2 separate regions of the Homo sapiens genome follow, and region 2 is linked to region 1. A link means that fine-mapping ties the variant in region 1 to the expression of a gene that starts in the linked region. Tissue or cell type: testis. Region 1 holds a variant in brackets; the other region holds the start of a gene. All regions are shown on one strand. Distances are between the middles of the regions.

Region 1 (8,101 bases):
GGCCGAGGCGGGTGGATCACCTGAGTTCGAGACCAGACTGACCAACATGGAGAAACCCCATCTCTACTAAAAATACAAAATTAGCCAGGCGTGGCGGCGCGTGCCTGTAATCCCAGCTACTCGGGAGGCAGAAGAATCACTTGAACCCGGGAGGCGGAGGTTTCGGTGAGCCGAGATCGCGCCATTGCACTCCAGCCTGGGCAACAAGAGCGAAACTCCCATCTCGAAAAAAAAAAAAAAAAGAAAAGAAAAAAAAAGCAATACTATATTTAACAGGATTAAAAAAAACACACAAAAACTGTCGGCCGGGCGCAGTGGCTCACGCCTGTAATCCTAGCACTTTGGGAGGCCGAGGTAGGCGGATCACGAGGTCAGGAGATGGAGACCATCCTGGCTAACAGGGTGAAACCCCGTGTCTACTAAAAACAAAACAAAACAAAAAAAAATACAAAAAATTAGCCAGGTGTGATGGCGGGCGCCTATAATCCCAGCTACTCGGGAGGCTGAGGCAGGAGAATGGCGTGAACCCGGGAGGCGGAGCTTGCAGTGAGCCGAGATCGCGCCACTGCCCTTCAGCCTGGGCGACAGAGCGAGACTCCGTCTCAAAACAAACAAACAAAAAAACAAAACAAAACAAAAAAACTGTCAACCTATAATTCCTTAGCCAGTAGCAAACTGATACCCCAACATTAAGGTGAAATAAATACATCCTCCAACAAATAAAACTGAGGAAGTTTATTATATTAGATCTTATATTAGTTTTCTATTGCTACATAACAAATTACTATAAATTCAGTGGGTGAAGCAACATAGGTCAGGCATGATGGCTCATGCCTGTGATCCCACCACTTTGGAGGCCAAGGCAAGAGGATCCTGTGAGGCCAGCAATTTGAGACCAGCCTGGGCAACATAACAAGAATCCCCATCTCTATAAAAGAAAAAAAAATTTAATTCTAACTCGATTACCTCTGAAAAAATAAAAAATAAAAAATAATAATTAGCCAGAGTGGTGGCATGCTCCTGTAGTCCCAGTTACTTGGGAGGCAGAGAGGCAGAAGGATTGCTTGAGCCAGGAGTGTGAGGTTGCTGTGAGCTGTGATAGTGCCACTGCATTCCAGCTTGGGTGACAGAGAGAGAGCCTGTCTCTAAAAAATATAATAAATATGTTTATTTTTTAAAAAAACACATTTATTATCTCACAGTTTCTGTGGGTCGGGAGTCTGGGTACATGTTTGCTGGGTCCTCCACTCAGGAGGTCACCAGGCTGAAATCAAGAAGTCATCCAGGGTTGAAAGCTCATTGAAGTTCAGGGTCCTCTTTCAAGCTCACTGGTTATTGGCAGAATTCAATTTGTTGTGACTATAGAACTGAGGCCTGGCTCCCAGAGGCCATCTGCCATCCCTGCCATGTGGCCCTCTCCACAGTGTAGCAATTTGCTTCTTTAAGGTAAAGGAGAGAATCTTTCTAACTTCTGTAAAGGCTTGAAGCCTTTTAAAGGGCTCACTTCATTAAGTCAGGTCCACCCAAAATAATCACCAATTTGATTAACTGATTAGAGACTTTAACTACATCAGAAAAATCCCTTATGTCAGGTAAATAACGTAATCACAGGAGAGAAATCCCATCATATTCACGAGTTCTGCTCAGACTTAAGGGGAAGGGGGATTTTATAGGGTACATAAACAAAAGATGAGAACTTTGGAGGCCATCTTAGAATTCTGTCTACCACAAATCCTCACTAAAGTAACTTTCTTTTGAGAGAGAAAGAGAGGGTCTCACTCTGTCACCTAAGCTGGAGTGCAATGACGTGATCACAGCTCACTGCAGACTTGACCTCCTGGGCTCAGGTGATTCTCCCACCTCAGCCTCCTGAATAGCTGGGACTACAGGAACGTGCCACCACACTCGGCTAATTTTTGCATTTTTGAGAGACGGGGTTTCACCATGTTGCCCAGGCTGGTCTCAAACTCCTGTCCTCAAGCAATCCACCCGCTTCAGTCTCCCAAAGTGGTGGGATTACAGGCATGAGCCACTAAGCCTGGCCTAAAGTAACTTCTAAAGATGTACTTCAGGTAGAAGGAAAATAACACAAGATGGAAGATCTGAGATACAAGAAAGAAGAGCAAGCAATATTAAGTATTAACATTAAACATATGAGCAAACCTATACAAGTATCACCTATTTAAAATAATATCTGATTTGTGGCCAGGCATGGTGGCTCACACCTGTAATCCCAGCACTTTGGGAGGCCAAGGTGGGCGGATCACCTGAGGTCAGGAGTTCGAGACCAGCCTCAGCATGGAGATACCCTGTCTCTACTAAAAATACAAAAAAAAAAAAAAAATTAGCCAGGCCTGGTGGTGCATGCCTGTAATCCCAGCTACTCGGGATTACTGAGGCAGGAGAATTGCGTGAACCTGGGAGGCGGAGGTTGCAGTGAGCTGAGATTGCGCCATTGCACTCCAGCCTGGGCAACAAGAGCGAAACTCAGTCTCAAAAAAAAAAAATAATAATAATAATAATAATATCTGATTTGTGAGATTAATAAAATAGTAGAATTAAAATATAGGGTTACAAAAATGTATAAATTCAAAGAGAATTATTAATGTTAAAGAACTCTAAAATCTATGAATTGTTTTAAAGAAGAATGAAGATATTGATTAAAGACATTAAGTTAAATATGTAGATTAAAAATTCTAGGCCGGGCGTGGTGGCTCATGCCTGTAATCCCAGCTACTCGGGAGGCTGAGGCAGGAGAATTGCTTGAGCCCGGGAGGCGGAGGTTGCAGTGAGCCTAGATCGCACCACTGCACTCCACCCTGGGCGACAGAGAGAGACTCTGTCTCAAAAAAAAAAAAAAAAGTACTCATAACAACAAAACTAGGCAGTTTCCACATAAATAAGGAAAAATACAGGCCAATCTCCTTTACTATTTTTTCTTTTTTCTATTTATTTATTTGGGCCAATCTCCTTTATGAACATAGTAAAAAGTTTTAAAAAAAATGAGCAGGCTGTTTAGCAATGCATAAAAAAGGTAACACTATTACAAAGTTGGGTTTATTCCAGAAATGTAAGGTTGTTTCAATACTAGAAAATCTATTAAAGTTTTCTAGAAAAAGAAATATAAGTTGGAATAGTTACAAAGGAAGAAATAAAACTGTGATTATTCCTGGATGATGTGATTTTCCATGTAGAAAAACCAAGAGAATCTATGGACGACTTATTAGAACTAGATAACTTAATAAAGTTGTTTGATATAAGATCAATATGAGGCAGGAGAGGTAGTCAAGGAAGTGACCAAGTAGTCAAGGCAGCAACAGTGGTGACTGTACAATCAACACAATAAACCTCAGCATATGCATTGTAACTGAGCTCATTCAAGCAAAGCTATCTTCAGTAGGGAATTTCCCCTGCAGACAGCATGTGCAGTTTGATTTACCTGTCCTCAAACTGACCCTTTGCTCATTTTATTAGTAAAAAGTACACCCCTGGATATTGAAGATGCTAATGAGACATGTGACATATGAACAAGCATATACAGCTACTGCACATCCACACCCAGAGGACCACCCAGAACATGCTTACTAGTAACACCTCTTCCCACCTCATGAATAATCATGTCAGACTTCCATAAGAGTCTCCCTAGTGCCAGTCTTTGCTGTCTCATCCTTATGAGCAGCCTGCCCTGAATTCTCTCACTTTCGGTGTACTGTCTGTTCTGCACCTACCTTTCAAAATATTCTTTTTCTTGTGCAATAAATTACTCTATGCTGCACTTCTTTTGCTGTGTCCCTTGTTTAAATTCTTTCAAACTAAGAACTGAGGTTTCACACAGCCGTCAACAGATATACACATTTTAAAATATCATTTATAATAGCATAAAAATGAAAGTGCCTGAATATAAATGCAGTAAAACTTCTGTACAAGATCTTTGTGGATAAAATTATTTAAAATTTTGTACAGGTATTTAGAAGATTTAAATAGATATAAGAGTCAACCTTGTCCATGGTTAGGAAGCCTCAATCTCATAAAAATGTCAATCCTCCCAAGTATATCTATAGATTCAATGCAATCCCCAACAGGATGTGTGTGTGTGTGTGTGTGTGTGTGTGTGTGTGTGTGTGTGTGTGTGAAATTCAAAGAGCTGATTCTAAAATTTATATACATGAACAAAGATCCCAGAAAAGGAGCAATGGACTCATACTCCCTAAATTAACTGGATTTTATGACTCATCACCCAGAGCAGGCTCAGTACAATACTA[GT/G]TGGGAGACAACTCCCTGTGAGGTTGGGGTGCTGTGCTACAGGATGTGGTAAATGCCTTAATCCAGAGGTCACTGTGTGGGGCTATCTTCCCCATAGGCAAGAAGCACAGGTCTGGGAATCAAGAGGTACAAATGAAAGTTTCCCTTCTTACTGGTATCCCCAGCGCTCCCCGGAAGGAGTCTTACTTCAAGTTACCACAACCCACCACAGCACCCGGTAGGTTGGGAGATCCTAGTTCCCAAAAGATGAATACTTCCACCGGCTAACTGGCAATAAAGTGGAAGATTAAACTGTGTGAATTATTCTTTTTTTTTTTTCTTTTTGAGACAGGGTCTTGCTCTGTCACCCAGGCTGGAGTGCAGTGGTGCCATCTTGGCTCACTGCAGCCTCGACCTCCCGGTCTCAATGCAGTCCTCCCACCTTCCACTCCCAAATAACTGGGACCACAGGAACACACCACCCTGCTCAGCTAATTTTTGTATTTTTTTGTAGAGATGGGGTTTTTCCATGTTGCTCTAGGCTGGTCATGAACTCCTGAGCTCAAGCAATCTGCCTACCTCAGCCTCCCAAAGCATTGGGATTACAGGTGTGAGCCATCGCAGCTGGCCCCGACTATTCTTGACTCTCAAGTCATCACTAAGCCAACAGGCATAGGAAGTGGTCATTATACTGGACAGTAATTGGTCCTAGAAGCCAGCAAACAAAGGGCATAATCAGAGTAAGTGCTGGAAGTTAGAGGCAGGGTGGCAAGTTAGGGCAGAGGTCACAGAGGGTCAGTCCATCTTGACTAGGCTTGTCAGTCGGACTGAGGCATTCCAGAGGCTCTGGGCAACATGAGGATCCCGAGAGGCTTTAACGGGAAGAGTTATCACACAGGAACTGCTGAAATATTTTCCAGAAATACCACCCGGCTCCTCTGCCAAGCTCAAGTAGAGGACTGGGAGTACACCTTGTTTGAGATCCTGTTGGGAGGGACAAGCGAAAAAGAAGTCATGCCAGGCAAACTTTGGCCTGCTGGGACACACTGAGAAGTTGAGCCCTGCCCCATTCCTCTAGGCCAAACCAGTTCTTTCCCCCACCTACCTTCATGAAGAAGCTGACAAGCTAGAAGAGGAAGCATTATGGCTAAGAGAAATGCCTCATAATCCCCATGTATACAACACCGGGCTCCACAGCATTCACAGTCATTCCTAAGAAGGTGAGACACAAGGAGAGTGCAAAGTGAAGAGAGAGGAGGATGACCGATAAAAGGGGTTAAGTGTAGTTCAGCAGCGTGCAAATCCTACCAAGTCTGTTGGGTAGTGTTGACCAGTGACTTGAGGGTGGTGCAGGGGACACTGGTGCTCTGTAGCTTACCTTAATGGTACCCAAGCCAGTAAGGAAGGATGGGTATTGGAAGTGTTGGGTGAACTGTAGGAGGAACATGGTGGACGATGCTGGTATTGGAAAACACCAGCAGGAAAGAAATATTGTGGGAGATGAAAAGAGTGGGAAAAGGTTGAAATGATGTGAATACAGGGTTGAGAGAAATAGAGGGTACAAAGATGATAGTTGGAGTGGAATAAAATGCTGGTTTGGGGCACATTGGGAGTACTTTATGGCCAGGACATGTTGGCAGGAGATGCGAAAGGTTGGGAGGTGGTGCTGGGAGTGGAGTAAGGGGTGTCAGAGGCAGTTACCTCTTCCTTGAAGTCTCTGGGCAAGCTCTCCAGTGAATGAAGTCAATAGCAGTTTGCTGCAGTCATAGTTTTGGTTAAAGGTCAAAGGGCCTCCAGCCTGTCAGGTGCCCCTCATCAATGTACCCATGTGCATGCCGAACGGAAGACACATTCACCACTGGGGCTGACCCTGCCTGTCGTAGGGCCCCTGGGTAGAGATGGGAGGGACCACACTGCTTCAATCCAAGTTCTAGAGTAAACTCCCATGCTCACTCCCCAACCTGCTTCTCCAGAAGATAGGAGAGCAGGGCTCTCTAAGAAGGGGCAGTGGGGTCCCTATCCAGAAACCTGGGCTAGGCATAGGAGAGCTTAATGTTAGCTGGGACCTCATTTTCATTATTAGCTGCCTTCCTAATGATCTTCTTCTTCTTTCATATTAGTGTTTGGAGTTTTGCCTTTCTTTTCTTCTACTTGCTAGTTGGAGCTACCTTAATTGATCCTCATTTATATGTTTTATTTCACTGATGGCTAAGAAGGGGAAGGAGAAGCTGGAAACACTGTGAAAGTTGCTTTCATGTATTCATACATTCATTCCTTCATTTATCCATCCCACAAATGTTCATTAGGCACCTGGAATATGGCAGACACTAAGCTAGGTGCTAAGGACATAACGGTGCTAGGTTTGGGGGAAAAGAAATATGTGTGCAGAGATACTTGAGAAAATGTTTTTAAAGAAACAAAGCTAGGGAAGGTCATCACTGGAAAACTATTAACAAGCTTAATATTTAAAAAAAAAAAAACCAACTATGTTTCAAACAAAAACAAAATTAAAATCCTAAAGTTAAATCTTAAAAAAAATGTTTAAAATAGTACATAAGTGTTTTAGTCTGTTCTCACACCACTATTAAGATGCTACCTGAGACTGGGTAATTTATAAACAAAAGTGGTTTAATTGACTCACAACTCTGCATGGCTGGGGAGACCTCGGGAAACTTATAATCATGGTGGAAGACAAAGGGGAAGCAAGGCATGTCTTACGTGGTGGCAGAAGAGACAGAGAGCAGGCAGGGGAAAACTGCCACTTTTTATTTATTTTTTATTTTTTATTTTTTTTGAGTCGGAGTCTTGCTCTGTCGCCCAGGCTGGAGTGCAGTGGCGCGATCTCGGCTCACTGCAAGCTCCGCCTCCTGGGTTCACGCCATTCTCCTGCCTCAGCCTCCCGAGTAGCTGGGACTACAAGCGCCCGCCACCACGCCTGGCTAATTTTTTTTTTTGTATTTTTAGTAGAAACGGGGTTTCACCGTGTTAGCCAGGATGGTCTCCATCTCCTGACCTCGTGATCCACCCACCTCGGCCTCCCAAAGTGCTGGGATTACAGGCGTGAGCCACCGCACCAGGTCAAAACTGCCACTTTTAAAACCATCAAATCTTGTGAGATCTCTCTCAATATCACAAGAACAGCACGGGGGAACTGCCCCCATGACCCAATCACTTCCCACCAGGTCCCTCCCTCTACATATGGGGATTACAGCTGGAGATGAGATTTGGGTGGGGACACAGAGCCAAACCATATCAATAAGTATACAAAAAAGTCTGGATTGGCTGGGTGTGGTGGCTGATGCCTGTAATCCCAGCACTTTGGGAGGCCAAGGCGAGAGTTTGAGGCCAAGGTGGGAGGCCTGAGGTCAGGAGTTTGAGACCAGCCTGCCCAACATGGCAAAACCCCGTATCTAGCAAAAATACAAAAAATTAGCCAGGCATGGTGTTGGGCACCTGTAATCCCAGCTACTCGGGAGGGTGAAGCAGGAGAATCGCTTGAACCCAAGAGGCGGAGGTTGCAGTGAGCCGAGATCGCGCCACTGTACTCCAACCTGGTAAACAAGAGCGAAACTCCGTCTCCAAAAAAAAAAAAAAAAAAAAAAAAGTCTGGATTATGTAAAGTATAAAAAATAGTTGTTGTCACATATGAGTTTACAGTATTGTTTTTAAAATGCTAAAACTATTTTGAAATTAAGACTCACTCAGTGGGAGGCCAGCCTGCTGCATGGACTGCTTCCAGCACTGCTCCTTCTCTCCCCAGAAAAAAAAATTAATACAAAATAAAATTTAAAAATTACAAATTACAAATGAGAAACTGAGCAGGTGGTATTTAGCCAAAATTTGCTGGAAAGAAAATTAT
Region 2 (8,086 bases), 27 kb before region 1:
ATCCACATGGGTGAGAGCAGGGGCCCTCTGCTTTGAAAAATAACTACTGGAGAGGAAGACTGGGGTGCTCCGGGGTGGGGGCACTCAACTGTCTGATTGACACTTTCCAACGTGAGTGCAGAAGGGCAGCATGGGTGGCCTAGGCTGGGCTTTTTCACATTTCCCCAGGCAGCTGCCAAAGCCCCTGGATTTGGGCATTGCTCAGGCCCCAGCCCAGGGTCAGACCAGGCTGGGGCCAGAACTCCATAAATATCAGACCATAGTTTCATGCTCTTCTCTATTCAAGGCCTGAGGTGAAATGGAAGCCCCAACCAGGAGACAATAATCAAAGGACAAAGCCAAGTTTCTATGACTCTGAAATGGGCCCAGGATCCTTCACAGCATTATTTTCCTTATATCCCCATTCCCTACCAAAGCAAGTACCAGCATGTGGTCTCTACCATGGCAAGACTCCAAAGGACCCATCACCAACCAGGAGCTGGTTTCCCCCTGGAAAAGGAGATGTTTTCCTCTTCCCTCCCACAGCCCCAATCCAGCAGCTCTCCATGCAATGTCAGAATGGCCTGAGATAGGCTGACGACAAGGAAATCACAGAATTGTACATACAGCACAGTACATACAGGCCAGACAGGCACATGCAGGTCAAAAACAGCTTGGGCAGAGGCCCAAGGCAGGGGCTGGTTTGAGGAAGTGGTCATGGCAGTGATCTAAGAGTTTAAAGAGTCTATGGTGGGAAGGGGAGGGGACGTGACATGATTGAGCCCCACTCCAATGATGGTTGATGAAAGGCTGCAAGGGGTAGGAGGTAGGCCTCAGGCACACCACCAGAGGAAGGAGACAGGGACAGACTGATGGGGCAGAGTTGTGGGGTGTGGGGATATTTATGGCTGTGCCCATCCACAGGCAGGCACATGAAGGCTCTTAGGTTTTCCAACTTGGGACTGTTCTTCCTAGGCTCTGTTCCCTGACCTCCCATCTTCCTGCAAAACCCCCTCACTTGGTACCTTCCTCAGCCCCATTCCCCCAGTCTATCCTTCCACAGTCGTCCAAGCTCGGGCTAAGTGAGAACACACTGTAACCCAGTAAATGATCTATTTCACACTGCTGCTATTTACAGTCAAATGCTTATAGTTTTTGATTGGGGAATCTTTGACTTGGAGTCCTGGGGCAGAGAGAATCATCCCTAATGAGTGCTACCTGGGTATGGACACTGAGCCTGATGTTCTTGCACCCTTCAAAGGAACTCTGAAAGCCAAGGCCACCATTTCCTCTGGCCATCCCAGCCCAAGGTCACACACACATGCATGCAGCAGCCCAGGGACATGCAGGACAGCTGGGGAAGGGGCTCATGGCCCCCATCCACCCAGGCACAAATAGTAAACACACCACCTTCTTAGGCTTCAGTCCCCGCTGCATGAGGAGTAGGAAAGGGCAGAGTTAGAGAACAGATGTCCTGGGCATAGGTGTTAAGACCAACTCGGGCTTACACAGGTTAGACGCGGGTAGGGGGGAGTCAGGGTGAGATGAGTAGCCCCTCAAAGATCAGCTTCCAGGATGTTCACACCTTGGCCCAGAGAAGCTGCAGAGTCTGCAGCCCCACCTCACACACATCCTGCACAGAGTAGCAGAGAAGAACTAGGAAGCACTCTCTGCATCCAGCTTAAAACAGGAGGCAGAGGGCCCGGCTCCTTGCCATTCACTTGTGAATAGGAGATTGCTTCTTCCTCTATCTTCTACCTTAACCTTACCCTCAGACCCTTTAGATGTTGGCATCTTTGGGTACCAAAAGGTAGGAAGTTGGCTACACTACTAGGGCCAGACCTGTCCTTCCTATCACCCTCAGCTCAATCTCATTTGACCCTGAACTTCTGGAGCCTATGAGTTTTTCCCTTCTACCATCTTTACTGTAACTCTAACACAGCAATTAATCCCCAGAAAGCCTCCTTCTTAGGGAAGTTGGAGAGACTAGAAGGCAAATCAGACTCACCTACTACTTCTACCTGCCTAGCACTGGGTATCCCTCCTCTTTCTCCTTCCCCTCCCTTTATTATTCCCCATTCCCACCCCCAAATCACTCACCAGTTTGCTAGTCTTTGCAGTTGTATCAGTTCCCTCTGTAGAAAGCAAACAGAAACAAAGTGTGTACTTGTATAGAGAGGTAGGGGGAGATATAATAAGGGAATATGGTAGTGACGGAAAAAAATCTTAGGATCTACTGTGGCCCCATGTTATGAGGAGAAGTCCTGGGGACTCCTCCTGGCTATGGGGAGGCAACTTTAAGTGGGTGGTTGTTACCTCTTTTGAGGACTTTTGAAGCAGAAGAATCAGGTGTCTCTGGGGAAGTAGTATCTGCTCCATCTTCAAATACCTGGATCTGAGGCCAGATTCAATATAGCCAGATCAATAGTTTCAATATAGCCAGATCAAGGACGGCTGTAATATGGGCCCCTCCCCAGGCTCCAAGCAAACCAAGAGTACAGGGCAGCTTCCCTAAGGATGCATCTTCAATCTTCCCTCCCCCACTACCTTCCACTCTCCCAACCAGAGGCTTATGCCCATGCTCAGGAAAACGAAGTACCAACACATCAGCTGCACATGCGACAGACATGTGCACACATGCACAGACACAAAAGAAGGGCGTGAATACCTGGGACTGGCGCACAAAGATGCCATGCCCTTCATCACAAGTGAAGTACTTCCTGCCTTGAACAGTTCCATCATTTTTGCCCTTTGCTTCATCCAGAATCACGCCTACCCATTTGCCAGTGGCAAACAGTGTGGCTCCAACATAGGCCACAGTGCCTCGGTGGCCTTTTCCAATCACCTCTACACGGGAGCCCACCCGCAGAGGCCGGGCGCTTGCCTCCGCACTCATCCTGCTGCCGCTGGGCGTCTGAAAGACACAGGTAAACACAGACAGTTAGAGGCCTCAGATCAAAGGTGGCATTCTTATGTATAAGAAATGCCTCAGCCAAGATGCTGGACTGAAAAACAACCAGAGTCATTTTCTTAAACCCCATTTACAGAATTGGGTGGACCCCCAAATTCCCCTTTGAAAAAATGCCAATGATATTCTAAGATTTCTCCAAATTCCTCTGGAATCTGCTAGAATTTTTAAGTTTATATTTTTTATAACAAATCAGAATTCATTGACCAGTCTGTGAATGTCACCACATGGCTGCTTTCTCAGGAGCACTGTCTCCTTAATTCTCTTCTCAGGAGGGGAAATAAGATCAAGCAAATAACTCAGTTTAGACCAGGCTCCCCACAACCCAATGCCCTGACTCAGGAGTCTGAGCTGGGAAGACAGGCAATTCAGTGGGTGATCCTACAGAATCCTGTTTCCCCTTCCACTGTCACTTGTCTCCTCTGTGTTTCAAATGGTTTTCTTAGGCCTCACCCTTTCAGAGGCACACAATTGTGCCTCCTTCCAGACCCTTAAGTCACCACCTCTCCTTCCTGATCTGACTCCTCCCACCCCCATCCACAAACCCACCATGAAACCCCAGATGCTTCACCACAGCCCATTCAACCATTCAACTCCCCTTCTACCTGGCCTGAGTCTTGTTTGGTCAACTCTCTATCCCCAAGCTCTGGAGATTCTTCTCCATGCTATGTTGCTATAAAAAGGAAAACACAGGCCAAGTAAATTGGGTGGATCTACCCCTCGCTCTGTCCCCAAGACTCTGCTCAGTGGTCCAAATGAATGGTTTATCACTCCACAGATGGGCAAGGCAAAACAACAGACTAAGACACTGTCCTTGGGCAGCTCTTAGCTTCGGCACACCCATGATGACTGAACACAATAGAAAATTAGGTCCCAAATAGGCCCATGGTTTAGAAGAAAATCACACTTAGGTCATTTTTAGCAACAGCAACTCCATGAACCAGGGGCCTTGCAGCAAACAGATGAATGAGGCATGATGAAGTGATACCATCATCCTAAAGACTCTATGGGAGACCCTTCTGATACTCTCATTTATAATAGCTTCAGAAGGGAGCCCTGGCAGAGCCAGGGAAGAGCCAGGACACCTCCCAGCCTATCACTGCCTAATTCCCTTCCCCAAACAGCTCATCCAGGAAGGTGAGGATGTAGTTCCCAGAGGCTCCAGGACCCCAAATCACACCTGGAACAGCAGGATGGCTCTCATGGACCTGACAATAAAAGGAATTGCCAGTGATATAAAAGGCTGAACCCAAAGTCAGAGACTCCCCCACTTTCCAACCCCAATAAGCCTCTCAGAACCAGGGGGCCACAACAGTAGCTACAGATTCTATCTCAGAAGAGAAAGAAAGCAAGTAACAAATAACAAAGCAGCTCTTAAGAAAGGCTTCACTGTAAGACCTCTCTGAGCCATCATCCCCATTCTGAGTCCCCAGGATAGTCTGGACCCCCTCAGGAGCCCCTGGTATGAGGGCCAATTAGAGTCAGAGGTCAGGCCTTGCTAGTCCCCATTTAGGGATCAACTCTGTAAAGGGAAGCCTGTCCAGCCTTACACCACCAGGGCTTCGAGGGCTCCTTAGAAAACACAGTCTGAGTGCCCTCAGCTGAGCTCCAGCCTATCTCCCCAGCCCCCACAGCAATGATGTCCACAGGCAGCCAGGCCTTCCCCAGCAGCCCTCCAGGGCCATCCCAGATTAGGGCCACTTACCCGGCTGTACACGTGCCTCTTGCTCTGTGCCATGTTGCTCACCCGGCCTCTACCCCCTCCCCCAGCTGGCCAAAGACAGAGAGAAAAGGTAGAAACCTAGGCAGGAGGGTCAGGGCGCTGGGCCCTCATAGAGGGACACAGGAGTCGTCAGGCACAGCCCTCCCCAGTCCATGGGCCTCACTCGGTGGCCTACACGGGTAGGGGTGGGGGCAGTGATGGGGGCTGAGGAGCAAGTCCCCTCTGCTGCCTGAGGATTCCTGAACCCAGAGACACAGAATCCTGCTTGCCAGCTGATGAGTCTCACTCTGCGCTAGTGCTGCTCTAGACTTGTCAGGAACCGTGCTAGCCTCTGGGTCCTAGTGCCCCCCTGCTTCACGTGGGCCAGAAACTAAGGGCTGGGCATACGCCACAGACCCTCAGCACTCAACTCTTGAATACACTGTCCTAGGGCTGGAAGCAGTCTTGACACGTCCTCCTAGTCTGTACCCACTCACCATCACTGTTCCCCTCTCCCCCAGGATGTAAGGCCTCAGCAGGCCCATAAGCATCAAGTGACACTTCAAAGCGATCAGCTGCCTAGAGCCTCCACACAGCCAAAATAAGGGTCTCTCATCTACCTTTCTGGTGCTCTTCTCTCTCCCTCCCCTCTCTAAACTCTGGACTCAGGGTCCAAATTCATGTGAGTAGGGCCTGGATTTCAATCTCACACTGAGCCAGAGGAGGCAGGCCCTGCCCAGGAGGCAGCAAGAGAAGGGCAGTAATGAAGGCAACTTCACACACATAGCAAAGCAAGCCAAGTACCCTAGCCCCCTCCCACAAGGCTGGCAAAGGTTGCCATAGTCACCCTTCACCCTTTATGGTTGTTATAAGGGGCCAGGTTGTAAAACACAAGAGTATCAGACTCAACTGGATTACTAAAGGCAGTAGTCAAAAGCAGAGAGCCCTTCTTTCTTCTTGTAGCACAAGGCCCAGTCCACCTCAGTCATCTGCCCCTTGTACTCTTGGCCTTGCCTCCTAGCATCTCAGACCCAATGAAATGGTTTATTTTCTACGCTTTTGTATTTCACAAAAATTCTTCAGTAACCATGTATTACTTTTATAATTAGAATTGTTTAATTTAATGAGATTATGCATTCTAATGAGAGGTCTCCAAGGGACTATGTTACCACACTGCTTTCATTCACTGGCCCATCTATCATGGGCTAGAAACCAAAAGACCAGGGTCCCTGCCCCTACACAGCCAACAAGGTTGGCCTGGGGTCTGACCTATGGCTCCACTGAGTATGGTATGGATCTAGTTCCCTTGGGCCTAGGGACGCCTGTCTTTTCTGCACTGGGCTTACTTCACTGGCAGAACAGTGACTTTACCCCGCTCTACCCTCTTAAGATAGGCCAGGTAGCCCAACAGGAGAATGACAGCCAACATTCAGAAATATGGCCCCAAAACACAATTCCAAATCTTCAGTCCTGGCCAGACCCCCTAGGAAATAATCTCTCTCCTCCCTGCAAAATCTCCATGTCGCCCCCTCCTTTCCCTATTCGCCATTACACAGGTGGGCAGGGCCAGGCACATCCTTGCAGCCTGGACCTCACATGTTCGGAGCACTTTACAGTCTATAGGACACCTTAAAAAAAGACATTTTATAGAACCATGGTTGAGTACTGGTTCTAGACTCAGGCTACTTTCCTGGCTTTATCACTTGGTAGCTACATAAACTTGGTCTAGTTACTTAACATCTCTATGCCTCAATTTCCTCATCCGTCATAGGGAAGTAACAAAGAACATATCTCAGAGAGGTATCGTGAGGATTAGCTGAGATAATCCAAACAAAGCATCCAGGACACCGCCTGGTATTTAATAAGTGCTAAATAAAAGTTAGCTAAGAACAATGTCATCATATATAGACATTACAATAACCCCATTGAGAGGTTGGCCAGGGATGATGCTGACAAGGCAACTGAGTCTTTGAGAACTGAGCAACTTCCCTGAAGACACACAGACTGTGAGGAGTAGAGCCAAAACTGGAAACAACCTGACCCAGAGCCCTCTGTGCTTTCTACTACCCCTCACCATTACCACAGACATATCTAGGCTTCCAAGGCCCTGCTCTTCCTGTAGGCCACACTGCCTTAAAAAATTCAAAAGAGCTCAGATCTAAAAATAGCCTCACAACTCACTAACCACATAGGTATCAATAGTCCCCTAATTTCTTGGAATCTGTTTATTTTCCTATGAAATGAAAATAATATCTGCCATATCTACGTCAGTATCATGAGGTTCAAAAAAGCTAAAGCATATACAGGTACCTTGTAGGCCAGGTGTGGTGGCTCATGCCTGTAATCCCAACACTTTGAGAGGCTGAGGCCGGTGGCTCACTTGAGACCAGGAGTTCAAGACCAGCCTGGCTGACATGGTGAAACCCTATCTCTACTAAAAATACAAAAATGAGCTGGGTGTGGTGGCGCATACCTATAATCCTAGCTACTTGAGAGACTATAGGCATGAGAATCGCTTGAAGCCGGGAGGTGAAGGTTGCAGTGAGCCAAGGTCGCACCACTGCACTCCAGCCAGGGCGACAGACTGAGACTCAAAAAAAAAAAAAAAAAAGCACCTTGTAAAAAGTACAGAAATTATAGAACTGCAAAGAATTACCTGACATGATACTAAATGGTATATACATCTACACAATAAATATAAGAAATTATAGACAGGAGAGAGGTGAGCTAGAAAGAAAGGGAGTACCTAAGCATGCCTTGAATTATGGGAATTTTAAAAAATATGTGGAGGCCGGGCGCGGTGGCTCACGCCTGTAATCCCAGCACTTTGGGAGGCCGAGGCGGGTGGATCATGAGGTCAGGAGATCGAGACCATCCTGGCTAACAAGGTGAAACCCTGTCTCTACTAAAAATACAAAAAAAAATTAGCCGGGCGCGGTGGCGGGCGCCTGTAGTCCCAGCTACTCGGGAGGCTGAGGCAGGAGAATGGCGTGAACCCGGGAAGCGGAGCTTGCAGTGAGCCGAGATTGCGCCACTGCAGTCCGCAGTCCCGCCTGGGCGACAGAGCGAGACTCCGTCTCAAAAAAAAAAAAATAAATAAATAAAATAAAAATAAAAAATATGTGGAAAGGCCTACAAAGCCCTGTAACTTGTGAACACAGTATGAACAGAGGCAGAAATAACTTTGCTTGACTAGCGAATAGTAAAGAACCCTAGCTTAGCTGAAGTAACGAATTGTAGATGGTTATTCTATCAAACTATAAGCCTTTTGAAGCATAGCCCACACCTTTTCCTCTTTATGATCCAATAGCCAGTAAGTAGCTCATGGTCAAATATTTATTGAATAAACATTTATTGAATAACATTGCAACATACTGGGAGGTAACTGTGGGTAGGCACGGAGTTTAACATCAGGCAGACAGAGAAGGACTTGATCC

Alleles and levels. Alleles are on the strand shown, and positions count from the first base shown. SD is a standard deviation of normalised expression in the study named.
For the expression in testis of the gene that starts at base 4,959 in region 2, allele G in region 1 goes with a lower level than allele GT (moderate effect, 0.52 SD a copy in GTEx).

What was found. PIP is the estimated chance that this variant, and not a neighbour inherited with it, causes the effect.
Region 2: it holds the start of DCTN1, and the variant in region 1 is fine-mapped to the expression of DCTN1 in testis (GTEx, PIP 0.97).

The regions. Positions count from the first base shown.
Region 1 is chr2:74,402,760-74,410,860 of GRCh38, forward strand. No RefSeq gene overlaps it. Among named protein-coding and RNA genes, the nearest start is that of C2orf81, 15 kb to the right of the region's middle. The variant GT/G (reference allele first, on the strand shown) is at 4,263.
Region 2 is chr2:74,375,353-74,383,438 of GRCh38, forward strand. DCTN1 (dynactin subunit 1) reads right to left here and starts at 4,959. Exons shown (of 32, transcript NM_004082.5): 1 at 4,653-4,959; 2 at 2,648-2,893; 3 at 2,296-2,374; 4 at 2,080-2,114; 5 at 1,390-1,410. The coding sequence starts at 4,685. RefSeq lists an enhancer at 4,760-5,271.